Homo sapiens: one gene and its partners. The protein of the gene in region 2 purifies or fractionates together with the protein of the main gene of each other region. This does not show direct contact. Each region holds a gene or a part of one and is shown on either strand. Other genes may lie near its edges.

What was found.
Region 1: the proteins of EPS8 (region 2) and ITGB1 purify together in Homo sapiens (pull-down; one study listed by IntAct). This does not show direct contact.
Region 3: the proteins of EPS8 (region 2) and AMPD2 purify together in Homo sapiens (affinity purification with mass spectrometry; 2 studies listed by BioGRID and IntAct, with this or other methods). This does not show direct contact.

The regions. Positions count from the first base shown.
Region 1 is NC_000010.11:32,899,673-32,903,032, forward strand, and holds the end of ITGB1 (integrin beta-1 isoform 1A precursor), read right to left. Parts: intron 1,964-3,360; coding exon 1,898-1,963; 3' UTR 646-1,897; downstream 1-645.
Region 2 is NC_000012.12:15,667,246-15,670,898, forward strand, and holds part of EPS8 (epidermal growth factor receptor kinase substrate 8), read right to left. Parts: coding exon 3,611-3,653; intron 2,581-3,610; coding exon 2,419-2,580; exon of another isoform or gene 2,415-2,418; intron 2,292-2,414; coding exon 2,142-2,291; intron 1-2,141. UniProt on the Homo sapiens protein: Signaling adapter that controls various cellular protrusions by regulating actin cytoskeleton dynamics and architecture. Depending on its association with other signal transducers, can regulate different processes.
Region 3 is NC_000001.11:109,622,729-109,626,381, forward strand, and holds part of AMPD2 (AMP deaminase 2), read left to right. Parts: intron 1-1,300; exon of another isoform or gene 1,301-1,361; intron 1,362-2,574; coding exon 2,575-2,705; intron 2,706-2,933; coding exon 2,934-3,064; intron 3,065-3,431; coding exon 3,432-3,500; intron 3,501-3,590; coding exon 3,591-3,653. UniProt on the Homo sapiens protein: AMP deaminase plays a critical role in energy metabolism. Catalyzes the deamination of AMP to IMP and plays an important role in the purine nucleotide cycle.

The DNA of each region.
Region 1 (3,360 bases), on a different chromosome or scaffold from region 2:
GGAAAACAAGATGAAACAGGGTGACAGAGAGTAATAAATACAGATAATTTTTTTCATGGATCTTACAAACTACTAAAAATGTGTAATTCTCACCTCAAATATGCTTTAGTCTAAGCTATGAAACACATTTAAATGGAGTAAGTAAAAGAAGATTAACAGGATGTGAAGGGATTGTATAAATGTGAAAGGCTAGTAAGGCTGAAACTTTTTCTCCTCCAAATATTTCTGACATTTGTTGTATGCTTAAGAAAGCAGCATATATTTCTTCTAATAAGCTTTACACAAGTAGTACTTATGGATATATCCTTTCAAACAGAAACCAAAGCCAAATAAAAGTAAAATTTTTCCTAATTTTTCTTATCAGAAAAGTTAACAATCCCCTATCTATATCTTAAATAAAATGATACAATTTCCAGCACCTACTAATGGCTCTAAGATGTTCATAAAGTTAATTCTGCTTAATATTGGGATGAAACCTCTCTCCCAGCGTAGCAGGATAAGTAAGGATCTATCCACCATGATTCAGAGAGCCCAAGGACAGTCTTCAAGTCTGTATTTCACCATACCACTCTCCTTATGTCCCTAGTACATTTTTTTAAAGAATTATGTTTTAGCTTCATAAGTGAACTACCCACCAACCAGAAATGCTTTTCCTCAACTTCTTTAATCTATAAAAATTTCATGCACACAACCTGATAAAATACATCAGAGTCAAGACATCCGATTTAAGTATTTTAGGCATATTTAATAAATAACTTCAGTAAATAGCACTGTAAAAAGTGAACTGTTAAAACTAAAGGCACTTAAAACAAGAATGTGACTAGTGTGAAACAAGATGGGCAACTCAAATGGTGAGAAGTAAACATACAGTGGTCTGTTATGGCACTAACTCAAAGTAAGACTCGCGTAGGTGAGAGCTGTTGCATAGCCACAGTATAACTTCACATGTTCATTAAAAAGGCAAATTGACCGCTAAAACTTCAAAGAAAAAGTACTCATAAAAAAAGTCTTACCCCAAAATTGCAAACAAATACATTAAAAGATTAGAAGAGGTGACAGAAAGCACCAGACATTAAACAAAATAAAAATAATAAAATAAATTCAACTCAAAAGGTCCCCATTCAGCAAATACTTTGTAAAGTATGGCCTGTATGTAAATAGTGCTAAATCAAGGACTTTTTAGCAGAAAATTGCTCGGTTCTTTTATCTAAGGCTTGAATTTGTAAAGTGAAGGCATAAAAGTTACCAAACATTAAGTAACTCTTAAAATGGCACACAGGTTTTAAAGCTATTGGTTTTTCCTTCCTAACTCTCTGAATTTTTCCCATGGCCTTTGTAGATCAACTATTTCAAACGTATTTTACACCAGCAACTCTCAACATACTTGTCTTTCAGATATGTCATCAGTCATGTCTAACAGGCAAATAGCAAAATAACAGATTTAAAACAATCCTTAACTAGCTAGCAGGACATTTACTTTGGATTCTGCATAACTGCAAACTGACATATTTGTAAAGCTAAAAATCAGTTTTAATACATGATTAACAGAAACTCTCATCATGCTCATTACTTTAACTATTGCCCTTTCAATCGCTATAGAAATATCACTTAATCCAATAAGCTTGATTTCAATAGTCCAGGAAGAAAAGGTCAAAAAGGCACAATGTGACCTTAGCTGACAAGAGTAACCATCCTGTCTCAAGTCTTTTGTCAGTCCCTGGCATGAATTACAACATTATTTTCAAAATAATAAAACATTTTAAAAATTATACATATTGTACATTTTCAAAACCTGCACATGAGTAAAACCATGGCAATATTGCCCTAAAGCTACCTAACTGTGACTATGGAAATTGCTACTTTGCATTCAGTGTTGTGGGATTTGCACGGGCAGTACTCATTTTCCCTCATACTTCGGATTGACCACAGTTGTTACGGCACTCTTATAAATAGGATTTTCACCCTACAACAAAAAAAAAGTGAGAAAAATTATCAGTTACCCTACTAAAATTATGTAGAATAATTTTTATAAATCAAGACTAAAAGTTGCAATCATCTTAAGAAGTCATTTCTATTTTATTTGTCCAGATATCACAGTTGTTTTAAAGGCATTAATAATGGTTTATATAAAAATAGAAAATGGAAGCTTTGCTTTACAAGTCTAATGATGCCCCGTTATCTGGTGCTATTTCATTCTTGAGTCCTTCCTCCACTGGAGGCTTGATTTAAGAATGTTCTCCATGGCACAGAATGTGCTGTCATCGTGGATTCTCTCCTCTGAACTAGTTTGCAATGCCTGCCTTAATGAAGCATGAACTCCGCTGCCATCACTGCCTGATTCTTATCCCTTTATCGTGAACAGAAGGCGCCTGCTAATCAAAACGGGAATCCTCGGCTTTCACTGCTGGGAGGGAGGTGTGCTTCTGGGGTCTCCTACGGAAGTTACTAATTTAGAGAGTAAGGCTGTCATTGTGTCAGGGACAGCACTGCGCCCCACCAAGTCACACTGCCAAATTTGCTTAGAATGTTAGATAATTACCATTCCTTATGAAATAACTTGTTATGCTTCAATATCATATTGGTGAAATGTCTTATTGCAGTGCTATAATTTAGTAAACAGTACTGAAGTCAAGCCTAGCAAGCAGGCCCCAAGCCATAAACACAAGAGATCTTTCAAGATCCAAAAATATACTGACAGTGATGTTTTAAGCAGAAAAAAACATATCACTGTATCACCCTTTTCCTTAAAAATTCTCTTATACTATAACTGCTACATTTAAATACTTGCTATAGCATTCTTTTTTCTCCTGTTCTTATAAATTGAAAGCAGGCTTGAAAGCCAAGTGAGAAGTGTGACCAAATAACACTTAATCAGAGAAAATTACAGTGAGTACAAATAAAAAATACTTGTTAACTACCAGGGAAATTTTTTTTAAGAAAAAATTAAGATTTTGGAATGTTGTTCAGTTTTATATCTCACTATAGAACCAACTGCAGGTGATTTTTAAAAAAATATTTATAGAAAGCATCTAAAACATTTTTTGATCTAAAAGTAATTTTTGTTTTTAAATTTTATTCACACTTCATTGCAGACTGTATTTGGATCTGCCTTTTGGTGGCACAATTTCTGCCCTCAAGGAAGGTATAGTTTGGTGGGTGAGAGACATGAAAATAAGGCACTCTGATGAAGTTTACAATAGAGTTATGAACATAATCTGGGAATAGTATAAGAAAAAAGTTATTAACTTTAAGAAGATTAAGGAGATTTTCATTGTGAAATTGACTAGAAAAATTATTGGTTGGTAAATAGCAATCTATGCAAAGTCAAGGTGTAGGGAAAAGAATGGGACATTTAAGTAG
Region 2 (3,653 bases):
TGTATGTTGTATTTCTTTTACAGTAAGCATCGATAATCATAAAACTTTAGAAATGATGGGATATTTAAAAGAGCATCTCATCAGTTCCTTCTAATTAATAAAACTGAGGAGTACTTGTATAAAAGGGCCTGGCCAAGGTCACATTGCTAGTTAAATGAGAGGCCAATGCATCCCAGTCCAGTGTGACTTCCTAAGAGCATTTAGTTTCAATAAGACATTACAAATATCGTGTCAAAGGCTTTCTGTTACATAGGATACTAAAACTGAAGATGAAAAGATATTTAATTAAAAATAATTATTTAAAAAAACCCAAAATGAAAACTGAAGATGCCTAGGAATCTTCAACTTCTTATACTGGGGCTATTATATTTCTAAGAAAAATTTTACTGCAAAGGTGGGCAGGAGCATTGCATGAAGTCCTATAATAAAGAAACTTTAAAAATCAAAAGCAATATTGCACAATGAGCCATATAAAAGAAACTGCGTTTTTCATTGCCTCTATATTTTTAACCAGCCAAGCGAAAAATGTCTCATATGCAGAGTATGAAACTAATGAGTAAATGCATACAGTGCTTCGTGGTATGTGAGCTTTTGGGGTTAGGACAAAACTATATTCAGTAAATACATTTTGAATCCATTATCATTACCATTCCATATCAAGTAAAGCAAGCCATTTGTTCCCAAACCTAAAATCCAGAAACTTTTCACAGCATAGTAACTTTTAGCTCCCGGGGGGGGCTTTTTAGAACACAGATACAAACATCAAATTTGAAATGTTTTTCAACTTAGGCCTCTGGTTTATAAAAATGTTTGAATTAAATTTCACTATATTTTTAAAGCAAAATATTCCCTTTAATATTTATTGACTGAATATATCTAACCTTACAAAAATTATAATATACTATGACTTTCAAAAGGCACTATACAAAAATCTGATGAATATCACTTACACAAATTACCTAAATGCCAGTTCTTTTAGAAGAAGGTTTTTAGAAAGTCATCCATGACGTAAATTGAAATTAGAAGAAAATTATAAAATACAGTTTACAGTCAATCTTACTTTATCTATCATCTTTAAATGTCAAAAAACACAGAAAAGATCAAGTAACTGTGCTAATCTCCTAGAGTTTCTTTATAAAATAAAATTACATGGATATTTTATAATATATCATCAAAATGTTAAATCACTGCTTTGGCAAAGTACCAATTAACACAAAATGATTTCTCTTTTAAAGAAAACAACTGAGGAAATAAACACATTCAAGGTTGAAGATAACTTCTAAGGTCCAATAAAGCATCACAAATTATAATCATTTGAAATTACACTGTACTTTGAAATAGAAACTTTCAGGATATAGCCTGTTATTACTGGCTCAACTATTTTCACATATCATCTGGGAATTACAAATCCTGAGCAATGAATCAAGTCACATAATTAAATGGTGAACTTTAAATCAATATCGTGGGAAATGTCTAAGTACTTCATTGCAGTAATCCATGCTATGTCATTAGTGCAGAATAAATTCAAATTACATGATTATTTACTGTCCACAAAGCAAGATTTCTGAACAATCAATTTTTAATTATAAGTTTAAGGCATTTGATGTGAATTTAATATATTATCTACACTTTAAAAAAATAAACAGAATGCATCTTATTTTTAAGAGACACAATCTCAATCTGTTGCCCAGGCTGGAGTGCAGAGGGGTGATTATAGCTCACTGTAATCTCCAACTCCTGGCTCAAGAGATCTTCCTCCCTTAGCCAACTGAGTAGCTGAGACTACAAGCGTGTACAACCACATCTAGCTAATTTTTAAAACCTTTTTAGTAGAGACTGGGTCTTGCCATGTTGTCCAGGCTGGGCCCAAACCCCTGGCCTCAAGCCATCTTACAGCCTTGGCCTCCCAAAGCACTGGGATTACAAGTGTGAACTACTGATTTGATTAACATCACCCTAATTTCTTTATTTACTTGCCATGGAAATCCTAGAGAAGATACTAAGGTATTTGTTTTCCTTACGAGATGCTCAGAAACTAAAAATCTAGTAACTAATATGCAGATATATTATCAAAATAGGTAATTCAAAAGCTCCCAGACAATCTGCTTAAAGAAGAAACAAAAATTTCACCATTCTTTTACCTTAACCTCATCACACTGGAAGAGATGAAGATCTGGCTTGTTCTGGGTTGGCTCTTTGCACACCAGTGCAAGAACTGAATCATAGCTGCATGAATGCATCACAGCTTGGCAGTGCTGGATTGTGTTTAAAGGAAAATTCTCCAGTTCATTCTATAAATAAAGTGAACATTTTATTTTGTCAAACTTCCATCCATTTTCAAACAATCTGAAATGATTGTAAACATTAATATTTGTGGAGTTTCTTGAAAATAAAATAGTATAAATTTTACACACTTGCCTTTGATTCTAAATCAATCAGGCTCACAGCTCTGTCATCCACTTGAAGAATCATATCTTGAGTCCACACTTTGCCCTTGGCATCAAGCAATTTCAATTTCCTTATTCCATCATCAACAGTGATCATAGCATCTTTCCGATCCAGGACAAAGGTAGTCAAGTGCTTACAATTGGCAAAAAGGAAAAAGATTTATAACACATACAAACACATACAACCTCTTAGTATACATTTTCCAAAAGAAAATCAAATAACCTGAGGTCAGCTAGCAGAGAACGACAAACACAAAGTACTCTTAAAACTTCATGACTATTTTAATGAGAGAATAAAGCCAACCAAGGTTTTTTTTGAATAGAAGAAATGGTGTTTTGACTCATAAGATACCTAAATCTGTTTCATACGGAGCCATGTTGAACTACATAAACATGACATTAAAACAAATTCTTAACAGCTTAAATAATATTCTCTTAAAATAAACTTTCCCCTATTTGACACTCTATTATGGTTATTTAAATGCTGAACATAGCAGCATTTAAACAGCAGGCTATCTGTATGGGAGCTTCAAAACTATGGACACTGATTGTAGCAACAGCACAATTCTAGTCTATAGGAACTGTCAAACTATTCAATCCACTAAAACCACTTACTGAAACAAAACTGTTTAAATTTGATTAAGCATGCTTGACATAGGTAGAAAACTGAAAATAAGAGCAATTTAAAAATTACTTCCCTGCTTAAATATTTTCTATTATAAGCACAGGTCAACCAGATAAATTCCAATCAAGAGCAAATATCGTAAAAGAGGGCAAAAACTAAAAAAGAACCATTATTTAACTAGAACTGGCAATAACTTTAGTTAAACTAAAAACTAAATTGCTCACTGAAACTAGCAAAGGCTTAATTTCAAGAAGATTCTATAGTACAAAGTAAAAGCCATTATTCTATTATAAGTGAAATAAGACTGGCAAGGATAAATGGATAGTAGTTATGATTTTAAATCATTCTTTATGAAAATAGACCACAGACTAACAAGATACTTTATATGTAATATCTGTTTTAAAAAATCTAAACAAAAAGGTCAATGCAACTTAAAATACATCATAAGAATGAAATAAAACAGAATTCTGATTTAACTTCCAATTTTTATGTTCCTCAAGGGTCACTCTAAATACTAGCAAACACCAAAGCATCTTACTTCAACACGGTATTGAGATATATCTGACACACTGCTGACACTG
Region 3 (3,653 bases), on a different chromosome or scaffold from region 2:
ATTGCTGTGGAGCCTGAGACCCCCCTGCTAGGAGAGGGGGTTGAGATTTGAGCCTTTGACTCAACTCCTGCTGACCCAATATGAACCAGCCATGGAGGTCTGTGGTCGGCCTCCCCTAGAAGGAGTCAGAAGTGGTCTGGGGCCATATGTAGGGAGGAGGTGTGTAAAATCAGGGTTCTCGGGCAAGAAAAGATCTTACACTCTGGGGGTGAGACAGCTTCCCCTCTTTTCTTCCTCTTCCCACTTTGTCCTTTTCCAAGTAAGAGATAGAGTCACCCCATCTCCACTCCTGCCAAGTTCACTTCACTGCCCTTTACTGGCCTATTGCCTTTGCCCTGCACTGGGCCCAGGGAACCTCCCACTGTCCTCAGTGGGCGGGGCTACAGGTAGAATGTATTTTGAGGGTCCCAGGAGTTCATAATTGCAGGCCTTGCCTCAACACAGAGCCTGGTGTTTTGCAGAACACTTGCAGAGCCATTATCTCTGTGAGCCTTATGGCAGTTGTGGCTAGGCAGGGAAGGGACCACTTATCGCCCCACTTGTAGATGAGGACCCAAAGCCTCCCAGAGGTAGGTAGAGACATGCCCGGAAGCAGGAACAGAATCAGATCCATGTTCTCCAAATTCTAGCCCCCTTTCTCCCAAACTTATTCTGGACAGTTTGTCCTGTCCCTGATGATAGGCTTGGATCAGGGGTTGCAGGTCTAGGGGCCTGCGAACCAGCCCCCTGAGCAGCTGGGCAGCGGGGAAGCCTCAGTGACTGGCCCCTACCTAGACTGGGCCATTTCCCCAGCTGCCAGCCAGCTCCTACCCCAGCAAAGGCCCTGTCTCTCCTGAGGGATGCCATAATCAGGGCCCAGAGGACAGTGGTGAGCAACAAGGCCACTGCCAGAAGAGGCCAACCTGGGGCTGTGGGTGTGATGAAGAGCGCTGTTCCCCTCCTTTTTCTCCCCTCTTACTCTTTGGCCAGCCAGGCCCTGCCCACTCACTGTCCCCTAGGGCAGTGGATTTTAAGGAGGCTTGGCTCCTCCCTGTCGGCCTGCCCTGCCCAAGTCAGCCTACCCTGCTACTCCCCCTTAGGAGCCTCACATCTGGCTGGGTCTTCCCTGGCACTGTAGAGGTGGAGGCCCTCTTCAGTTCTGGAGTTCGTCTTATCTCCCAACTCTGATGCTCCTTCCCTTGGTTTCTGGGCTCCCTTGAACTCCCCTAGCTCCGTGCTCACGGCCATCTCAGGGTCTCCCCTGCTTGCAGCTGCACTTGGTACAGCCTGTGCCAGCCCCTGAGGGACCGGCTGCAGCTTCACTGGCAAACAGGCGGGCAAGGGGCACAGGGCTGCTGGCCGGAGCTGCCTGCACTCTGCAGGTAGGGTTCAGGCAGGGGCCGGGGTGCGCAGGGGACGGGGTCCTGGATCTGGGGCAGGCCCCTCCCTCTTCCCTTTGTCCAGCTTTGGGACCAGTCCTGGAGTATTGGGAAATGGGCGCAGAGACTTTAAGGCCGGCTACCTAGGCAGATCCTGTAATCCTTCCCTAAGCCAGGGTGGAGGGTGCTGGAGGGGAGCACTCCTTACAGCCGGCTGAGAGAGGCAGTTTGGGTGTGGAAAGCTTCTCACTGAGGAGCTGGGGCTGCTGAGCCCAGGGAGGGTCCTTCGGGGTAGGCTGGAAGCCTTGGCAGCCCCCATAGACCAGCAGCTTCACGGCCCTCTGGTGCCAGCCTCCTCGTGGTACAGATGGAAAGTCTAGTCTTGATGAAGAAAGACCCCTGGCTTCTGACACTCCCTTCCCCAGGGCCCTCTGTGGTGCCCCCGGTCCAGATCCTGGGGCCTGAGTGGCATAGACTGTTTGTGGCAGCTCCTTTTGGAGGGGCAGGCTAAGGCCAGGCCACATTTTGGCAGCCCTGGGGCCCTGGGGGACAGGGCGGGCCTCCAGGGAGGAGGTAGGGTTCCCTTGCCAACCAGGCCCTCCACTTCCTCTCCTCTTCCCTTGAGGGCTCGTCCCTAGGTCAGAGCTGAGCAGCAGCTGCGGCTTCTCTTGTGCTGCACAGGTCTAGGATGTCAGGCACAGGGCCCTGCCCCTTTGAGTGGAGAATCTGCTAGTCCAGGGGCGGGTCTGATCCTGGGTTGCCTGCCCTGGGAGCTGCAGGCTGGGGGTCCCTGGTGTGGCCGCCTGGTCCTTACCAAGCACCTGGTGTGTGTCTCTGAGGGTGTCTGTGTGCGTACGTGCATGTGTGTGCACACGTACACACGTGCACCTGCCTCTGGGAGGTAGTCACGTGGAGATTCTCATGGCCTGAGGGATCAGGCTCTAGTCTCATTTGTGGAGGTAATGAATCTACTTGTTCTAGGGGCAGACTCAGAATCCCCACCCCAAGCCTGGAATGGGTGAGGGGTCCCTGCGTTAGAGGTGAGGGTGAGCCCTTTGGGAGCCACACACACAGGCCTACTCCTCAGCTACTGAGGAGGGACTGCCCTCTTTCCCGACCCTGGGCTCTCTCGGGAGCTGGCCTAGGCAGGGCAGGGGCCCAGGGCTTTCAGGGGCTGCCCCTCCACCCTTTGACCCTGGCATCACTGTCTCTGCAGAGGCTCGGGGTGGTCTGGGGGCCCCTCCGCTGCAGTCTGCCCGATCCCTGCCGGGCCCCGCCCCCTGCCTCAAGCACTTCCCGCTCGACCTGCGCACGTCTATGGATGGCAAATGCAAGGAGATCGCCGAGGTATCACCTGGCACCACCCGCACCCTCACCCCGTGTCTCCATGCCCTGCCTCTGCTCCCCACACCCCTCACCTCAAGCTGTCCCCTCACCTCACGCTTGGCTGTCTCCTGATCCTCAGCCTCTCCCAGGTACCCCTGGTCCTGCTGCCCTCACCCCATCCCCAGACTCTGTAGGAGAGTGCCCGAGGGCGGAGGGCCAGCCATGCTGACCTTCCTTCCCTCCCCCCAGGAGCTGTTCACCCGCTCACTGGCTGAGAGCGAGCTCCGTAGTGCCCCGTATGAGTTCCCCGAGGAGAGCCCCATTGAACAGCTGGAGGAGCGGCGGCAGCGGCTGGAGCGGCAGATCAGCCAGGATGTCAAGTGAGCCCGGCAGGCAGCTGCTTAGTCTCCCTCCATACCCTTCCAGACCCTTTCAGAGCCCCTTTTCTGCCTCTTTCCCTCGCACCCTGCCTTGGGGGGTCTGCACAGGGAGCATAGAGTGGGCTTTGGAGTCGGGCTGCTGGGTTCTGTTCTGTCTTCTAGCCGCCGGTGTGGCTGGGTCATGTTGCTTAACTTATGGGTCTGCTTTCTCATCTCTAAAGTGAGTGAGAACAGCACAGGGTTCTGCAGCTCTGCCTTTGAGGATCACATGTGACAACATGTGCACAGCACCTAGTGCGGTGCTGGGACCTGGGAGCAAGGGCCGTCCCTCGGGATCTGCCTGACTTCTCACCCCTCTTGCCTCTAGGCTGGAGCCAGACATCCTGCTTCGGGCCAAGCAAGATTTCCTGAAGACGGACAGTGACTCGGACCTACAGTGAGGAGGGCAGAGGGGCACAGGGGATGCGGAGCTGCAGCCTGCCCTTCTGCCGGCTCTAAACCCCTCCCTTGAATGCACCCCCTGCAGGCTCTACAAGGAACAGGGTGAGGGGCAGGGTGACCGGAGCCTGCGGGAGCGTGATGTGCTGGA